Homo sapiens: one gene and its partner. The protein of the gene in region 1 purifies or fractionates together with the protein of each later gene. This does not show direct contact. Each region holds a gene or a part of one and is shown on either strand. Other genes may lie near its edges. The genes, in order: SBNO1 and ARL6.

Region 1 (3,826 bases):
CAATGATCTCTGTCTATAAAATTGGAAAAATAAGACCTAATTTCGTATGGACCTCTGCCAGGTTATATGGTAGAATGTATATAGCCAAGTGCTTAACACACTGCCAACCACCAGTGAATTGCTCAATTCCTAATTTAAAACGGGGATAACTTGTGCATTCAAAATTGTACAAGTGACAGTGAAAATTTGGAACCATTTGTGAATTCATGGAAGGCAGTTCATTCCCAAAATATAGCCACTTTAAAATGCTTATGTTTTAATTTCAACAGTATTTTCAACGTCAACTATTTTCTTTTTTCTTTTTCTTTTTTGAGACAGAGTCTCGCTCTGTCATCCAGGCTGGAGTGCAGCAGCGCTATCTCGGCTCACTGCAAGCTCTGCCTCCTGGGTTCACGACATTCTCCTGCCTCAGCCTCCCGAGTAGCTGGGACTATAGGTGCCCACCACGATGCCCGGCTAATTTTTTGTATTTTCAGTAGAGATGGGGTTTCACCGTGTTAGCCAGGATGGTCTCGATCTCCTGACCTCGTGATCTGCCCACCTCAGCCTCCCAAAGTGCTGGGATTACAGGTGTGAGCCACCGCACCTGGCCTATTTTTTCTTTTTTAAAGTGCTCACCTTTCCGCTTCTTTATTTTATTTTCTTTACAAGGACTATCTCTTGGCGAACTGTTGTTACTTGGAGCTGTCAAATCGATTCCTAGTAAACTATAAAGTTTTTTCCTGTCTGGAGCAGGAAAATGTTTTTCAATGAGTGACTGCAACACACCTCTGTAGGAGAGAAACAGTGACAATTACTGCTTCAGTTGACAAAATAATTATATGTAAAGTATTATTAAATATATTGAAATATACTTTGTTCAGTTTTACAAAATACTGATAAACGAGCTCAAATAAATTTTAATTTTCTAGCCCAAAGCTGTCCAACTAAATAATAAGAATGCAAGCCAAACCACATACACAATTATTGTATTTTCTGGTAGCTTAAATTAAAAAAGTAAAAAATAAATAAAACTGGTGGAACTAATTTTAATAATACATTTTAACTCAATATACCATGTCAACACATATGTTTTATGTTATTTTCTCTTAAGGAGTCTTTGAAACCTGGCTCAGTACACATATAATAACATCTCAATATGGACCAGTCATTTCAACTGCTCAATAGCCACATGTGACAAGCGGCTGCCATTCTGGACACGGTAGTTCTAGGCAATTATGTACAGAAAAATATAGATTAGCAGGTGTATGTCTTGCTTTTTTCTTTTTTTTTTTTTTTTTGAGACCGAGTCTCTCTGTCACCCAGGCTGGAGTGCAATGGTGCCATCTCAGCTCACTGCAACCTCCGCCGCCTGGGTTCAAGCAATTCTCCTGCCTCAGCCTCTCCAGTAGCTGGGATTACAGGTGCCCGCCACCACGCCTGGCTAGTTTTTGTATTTTTAGTAGAGACGAGGTTTCACCGTGTTGGCCAGGCTGGTCTCAAACTCCTGAGCTCTCGTGATCCACCAGACTCAGCCTCCCAAAGTGCCTGGATTACAGGCGTGAGCCCCATGTATTGCTTTTGAAAGGAGCATCTGAATGCATCCCGAGGCACAAAATAGTAGAGCAGCAAGTTTATTTTGCTCAGTTTACTACCAGAGTTTGAATGTGGAGGTTAGGCAAACTAAAAACAATGCCTAAAACATTTTAAAATCTATTTCTGAAGATCTCATGCTTATTTTCAACTTTTAAAGTAGACTTTATTTTATTTTATTTTTTTTTGAGACAGGGTCTCACTCTGCCGCCCAGAGGGGAGTGGAGTGGAGTGGTGCGATCTTGGCTCACTGCAACCTCCACCTCACGGGTTCAATGGATTCTCCTGCCTCAGCCTCCCAGGTAGGTGGGACTACAGGACGTGTGCCACCATGCCCAACTAATTTTTTTTATTTTTAGTTGAGATGGGGTTTCACCATTTTGGCCAGGCTGGTCTCAAACTACTGACCTCAAGTGATGTGCCCATGTTGGCCTCCCAAAGTGCTGAGATTACAGCTGTGAGCCACCATGCTCAGCCAACTTATAAAGTAGACTTCGTTATATTAGGACAAACTATAGTTACTGTTCCTGTGGATAACGGTAATTTCAAATACAGTACACTAAAACTGAATCTAAGCCAAGCTGTCACAGATTTCCAAGATGTACAAGATAAACAAAGTCTAGCCCTTCTGTTAGTTCACATACTCTGTGTAATATTAGCAAAATGCTTAACATTTTAGGATTATGAGATTTCTGTTATTGTTTTCCAATAGATACACTGTTACAGAAAAGCAGAAAACTCAGATCAAGAAAACTTAAAGATGATGCAGGTGAAACAAAAGTTTTGTCTCCAGGAAATGCCCACATTGGAACTAAGGTAAGGAAGAACTCAAAAAGAAACAAAAACATTAAAAGAACAAAAACATTACTTGGCAGTTGAAACAAAATCATTCAATTCTCCCCCGCCCTCTTCCAAAGCTTCTAATGTTCTAGCTTCTCCTGTAGACTGCAGACCAATTACAACACACTGGAGAAAAAAGAAAACATGTTAATTATGAATAATAATGTTTGTGGCTTCTTACCAAGACATATTTTAAACATTTAGCTAAACAAAGATTTCAAACAAGAATGTCCTCATTATTATAAAACACAAATTTGTTTTACTTATTTCTTCTACATATTTGAGACAGGTTATTTGTCAAAAATTTAGGCAGGAGATAGGATTACAGACAGTAGTAAGCATGAGTGAAGCCCCTGCCCTTGTACAGTTTATAGTATCTTATGCTTTAAGTAGATAAATATTCACCGAAAAGAAAAAACCTTAACGCAATACACATCCATATGTTACCAGTGCTACCAGCTATGGATGACCAATTATAGTGATGTTTACTTTGTTATACTTTTCTGAACTCTCTAAATTCTCTAAGCAGGCATTGCTTTTATAATTTTAAGAAATGTATTTTTTAGAAGTTTTACTATCCTTTAGGAAAACCAGATTTTACAAGCAGAAAACCTCAGCACCCACAAAGACTAAACAACATAACCCCCAAACAATCTCTTAATGAGTTCTTCTACTTACTTTTCCATTCTTGATTTCCTCTCGAGCTAGTTGCACAACCCTTTTAACTTTGGATGCTATGCATAAGTATTTGAAGAACCTCTGGTGAGCAGACCAGAACTGACCCCACATGGACTTCTTCATTCGTTGCTCAGCATCAATCAGATCTGCAGCTTGCTGAAACCGCTCTCTGGCGATGACCCACTGAAGATACATAATCAACATTTCAGACACTTCATCTTTGAGTCTAGTTATTTAAAAATACCAATTAAATCAAAACAATGTTAAGTGCAAGACCATTTAATATTAATTTAATAAATCATCTTTAGTAACTTGGGAATCTATTTCTCAGGATACTCACACAGTTGTCTCAAGTTTCTTATTACCTAATGCAGTCATTTTAGAAAATAATGTGATTTTAAGAACTATGCAACTGAAATAAATGGCTATAACTTATGAATTACCTTAACAAAATGAAAACATGGACAATCTGAAATATAAGAACATTGGTTAGGCCAGGCGCAGTGGCTGATGCCTGTAATCCCAGCACTTTGGGAGGCTGAGGCAGGTGGATTGCTTGAGCCCAGGAGTTCCAGATCAGGCTGGGCAACACTGTAAAACCTCATCTCTACCAAAAAATACAAAAATCAGCCAGGCACATTGACATGCGCCTGCAGTCCCTGATACTCAGGAGGCAGAGTCTGGAGGACTCCTTGAACCTGGGAGGTAGAGGTTGCAGTAAGCCAAGATCACACCA
Region 2 (3,826 bases), on another chromosome or scaffold:
TAAAATACTTAAGAATAAATCCAACCAAAGATCTCTACAATTAAAACTATAAAATATTGATAAAAGAAATTGAAGAGGACACAAAAACATGAAAAGCTATTCTATCTATGCTCATGGATTAAAAGAATTATCACAGTTAAAATATCTATACCACCCGAAGAGATTAACAGAGTCAATGCAATCCCTATCAAAATACCAATAACATTCACAGAAATATAAAAAGAATCCTAAAATTTATATGAAACCATAAAAGACCCCAAATAGCCAAAATAATCCTGAACAAAAAGTACAAAGTTGGAGGTACCACACTATCTGACTTCAAACTATACTACAAAGCCATGATAACCAAAACAGCATAGTTTTGGCATAAACACACACACACAGACCAACAGAAGAGAACAGAGAAGCCAGAAATAAATCCATGTATTTACATCCAACTCATTTTCCAAAAAGACATCCAAGAACATACATTGGGAAAAGGATAGTCTTATGATGCTGGAACACTGGATAAACACATGTAGAAGACTGAAACTAGACCCCTATCTCCCACCATATACAAAAGTCAACTAAAAATGGATTAAAGACTTAAATCTAAGACCCAAAACTATCAAAGTACTAGGAGAAAACACAGGGAAAATGCTTCAGGACACTGATTTGGGCAGTAAGACCTCAGAAGCACATGTAACAAAAGCAAAAATAGACAAATTGGACTATATCAAGCTACAAAGCTTCTACACAGCAAAGGAAACAATCAACAAAGTGAAGAGATAATCTACAGAATTACAGAAAATATTTACATAATATCCACTCAACAAAGGATTAATAACCAGAATACAGAAGGAACTCAATTCAGTAGCAAGGAAAAACAAAACACAAAAAATCTGACTAAAAAAATGGGTAAAAGATCTGAATAGACATTTCTCAAAAGAATATAGACAAATGGCCAACAGGCATATGAAAAAAATGCTCATCATTATTCATCAGGAAAATATATATCAAACTACAATGAGATATTATTTCACCCCAGTTAAAATTGCCTTTATCAAAAAAGGCAAAAAAATAATGAATGCTGGTGAAGATGTAGAAAAGGGGGAACTCTCGTAGATTGTTGGTGGGAATGCAAATTAGTGTAGCCACTATGGAAAACAGTATAGTGTTTCCGCATGAAACTAAAAATAGAACTCCCATAAGATCCAGCAATCCCACTGTGGGAATATATCCAAAAAAATGGAAATCAATGTATCAAAGAGATACCTGCACTCCCAAGTTTATAGCACCACTATTCACAATAGCCAAGATATGGAATACACTTTTGTCCATCAATGGATGTATGGATAATGAAAATTTGGTACATATACACAATGAAATATTATTCAGCCATAAAAAAGACTGAAATCCTGTCATTTGCAGCAATATGGAGAGAACTGAAGGTCATTAAGTTAAGTGAAATAAGCCAGGTCCAGAAAGACAAGTATCACATGTTCTCACTTGTTTGTGGGATCTGAAAAAGTAGATCTCATAGAGACATAGAGTAGGTGGTTACCAGAGGCTGGGAAGGGTAGGGCGGAGAGAGGGGTGGAGAGAGGTTCATTAATAGGTATAAAAATACAGTTAGATAAAGGAATAAGACTTAGTGTTTGATAATTCAGTAGAGTGACTATAGTCAACAATAATTTACTGGATATTTCAAAATAGCCAGAAAAGAAGAATTAGAATGTTCTGAACATACAAAAAAGATAAATTTTTGAGGTGATGGATATCCCAGTGACTCTGATTTATTATGCATTGTATGCATGTATCAAACTATCACATGTAACCCCTAAATTTGTATCAATAAAAAATGATATAAAAACTGGATGATGTGACAATAAAGATTGGTAGTGGAATAAAGATTGAAATTTTTGAAAAAGGTATATAGAGTCTATCTCTAAAAAAATGACAGCTAAGACTAGATTCTTGAAAAAAGCGATCAGATTAAAATGTCCTCCCTCTCTCCCTATTCTAAAATGCCAGCAACCTCAGTACATTAACAATAAATAAACATAAAGATAGCTTAATATGAAAAACTAGTTTGTGTCCAGGAAAGAACTACTTACCTAGAAACTGATTTTATCCACAAAAATGAGACAATTTTACTATAAAATGAGATGGGCACTATTTTTTTGCAAGGCATTTCCTATCACAGCATTGTACATTTCTGTACTTATTTTATTTAATTCCTTAAAAATAATGTTCTAGTAGTGGATGTAAGCTTACAAGAGACTCTTCTTGAGCTTGGTGTAGGAAGGGAGCAAGTGTTGTATCTACATCTATAACTGAGTGACAGAGGTTTGAAACCCCTCAAGAAGTCCCATTTCAAGTGGCTCCTTGGCTGTTACCATTACCATAAAAAAAAGAAAAAAAAGCAAAGCCAATCACTTTTCTCTGGACCTGGAGGTCAGTTTTTCTGATAAGGCAGGAGAGTTGTCCAAACATAAAGGCTCAGGAATTGGTGCCAGAAATTAGGAAAGCCCTATTAGATAGGCTTTCTTTATATGCAGCAGACTTTAACTTTAACTTATACATCACATGTTAAATGTGCTAGCTTTATATATTTTTCAGTTATTACAATATGTCCATACACTTGTTGCTTAAAATCATCTTGCTTACTATTACTAATATGCATACTATACTTTCAAAAATTGTCTAATTATCCATAGAACCTATAAAAATGTTTCACCTTTCTCTGTTTTGCTCCTCCTGTAAGGAGGAAACTAAAAAGAAGGCAATGACATTTAAAGTAAACTCAGTAAATCTGTGAAGAACTTTTGAAAGAAAAGACATTTGAAAATAATATTCCAGTTTAATAATTAAAATTTACTGTGTAAAATATACTGCAAATTATGGCTGAGGATACTTAAAGGTACTGAAAGGTTAACAGAATATCTTAATGTGATTATATGCGGTTTTAACGTCATATAACATAATTCTGCACATTAATTTTCTTTAGTAGCAGAAAATACATAAAGCATCTAACAAAGATACTTACATTTGAAGGTTTAAGTTTGTTAATGATCGTCGTTTTGCCACTATTATCTAGCCCAAGGCACAAAACATGAACCTCCTTCTTCTTCAGGCCAAGCAAGACTGAAAGTCTGTCTAGCAATCCCATAATGTGATTCAAATATTTACAAACCAGCTGCAATTAAGAAAAAATAAAATATTACCCAAAGGCACCTTAAGTTATGGAAAATATTGGTAGGTGTATTAAAAAAAGGTAATAATTTAAATACACATAATAATAGTGTGAAAACTATGTCAATGTAGCTTTGCACTTAGTAAACACAGTGTAAGCTGATTACCAGAAAGGAGCCTTAACTGACACGCAGATTTGCAGCTTATAACAGGTGGCAACACAGAACAATGCCTTGGAAATAACAACATTTCTCTCTGTAATTTATCATATTTAAGAATAAAACATGGTCAGCCTCAGTATCATTTGGAGTCTGCGAATTGTGATACTTGAAAATATGGAAGAATTAGGCCGTAGCCTTTCCAGAAAATCTGAAACAATGAATGGGCAATGGGGTTCATGTAGAAGGCAGAAAGTAGAAGGCAGATCTGAAAAGCAGACAGATTTTGAGATTTTGGTGATATCATTTAAGCCACTGTTAAATCTTTATCAGAAGCCAGCCCCATTGTTATATTTTGTAATAATATGAAGTTACAATAAATTCACTTTTTTTTTGCTTGCTTGGTTATTTCCAGTTTAAGTAGGGTTTTCTCTCAGTAGAAGCAAAGAATCCTGAAATACTTATCCTTATTTCCCCTTATCCTATACATACAT

What was found.
Region 2: the proteins of SBNO1 (region 1) and ARL6 purify together in Homo sapiens (affinity purification with mass spectrometry; one large-scale study listed by BioGRID and IntAct). This does not show direct contact.

Annotation. Positions count from the first base shown.
Region 1 is NC_000012.12:123,323,062-123,326,887, forward strand, and holds part of SBNO1 (protein strawberry notch homolog 1), read right to left. Parts: intron 3,274-3,826; coding exon 3,091-3,273; intron 2,539-3,090; coding exon 2,441-2,538; intron 771-2,440; coding exon 619-770; intron 1-618. UniProt on the Homo sapiens protein: Plays a crucial role in the regulation of neural stem cells (NSCs) proliferation. Enhances the phosphorylation of GSK3B through the PI3K-Akt signaling pathway, thereby upregulating the Wnt/beta-catenin signaling pathway and promoting the proliferation of NSCs.
Region 2 is NC_000003.12:97,767,433-97,771,258, reverse strand, and holds part of ARL6 (ADP-ribosylation factor-like protein 6), read right to left. Parts: intron 3,179-3,826; 5' UTR 3,152-3,178; coding exon 3,029-3,151; intron 1-3,028. UniProt on the Homo sapiens protein: Involved in membrane protein trafficking at the base of the ciliary organelle. Mediates recruitment onto plasma membrane of the BBSome complex which would constitute a coat complex required for sorting of specific membrane proteins to the primary cilia.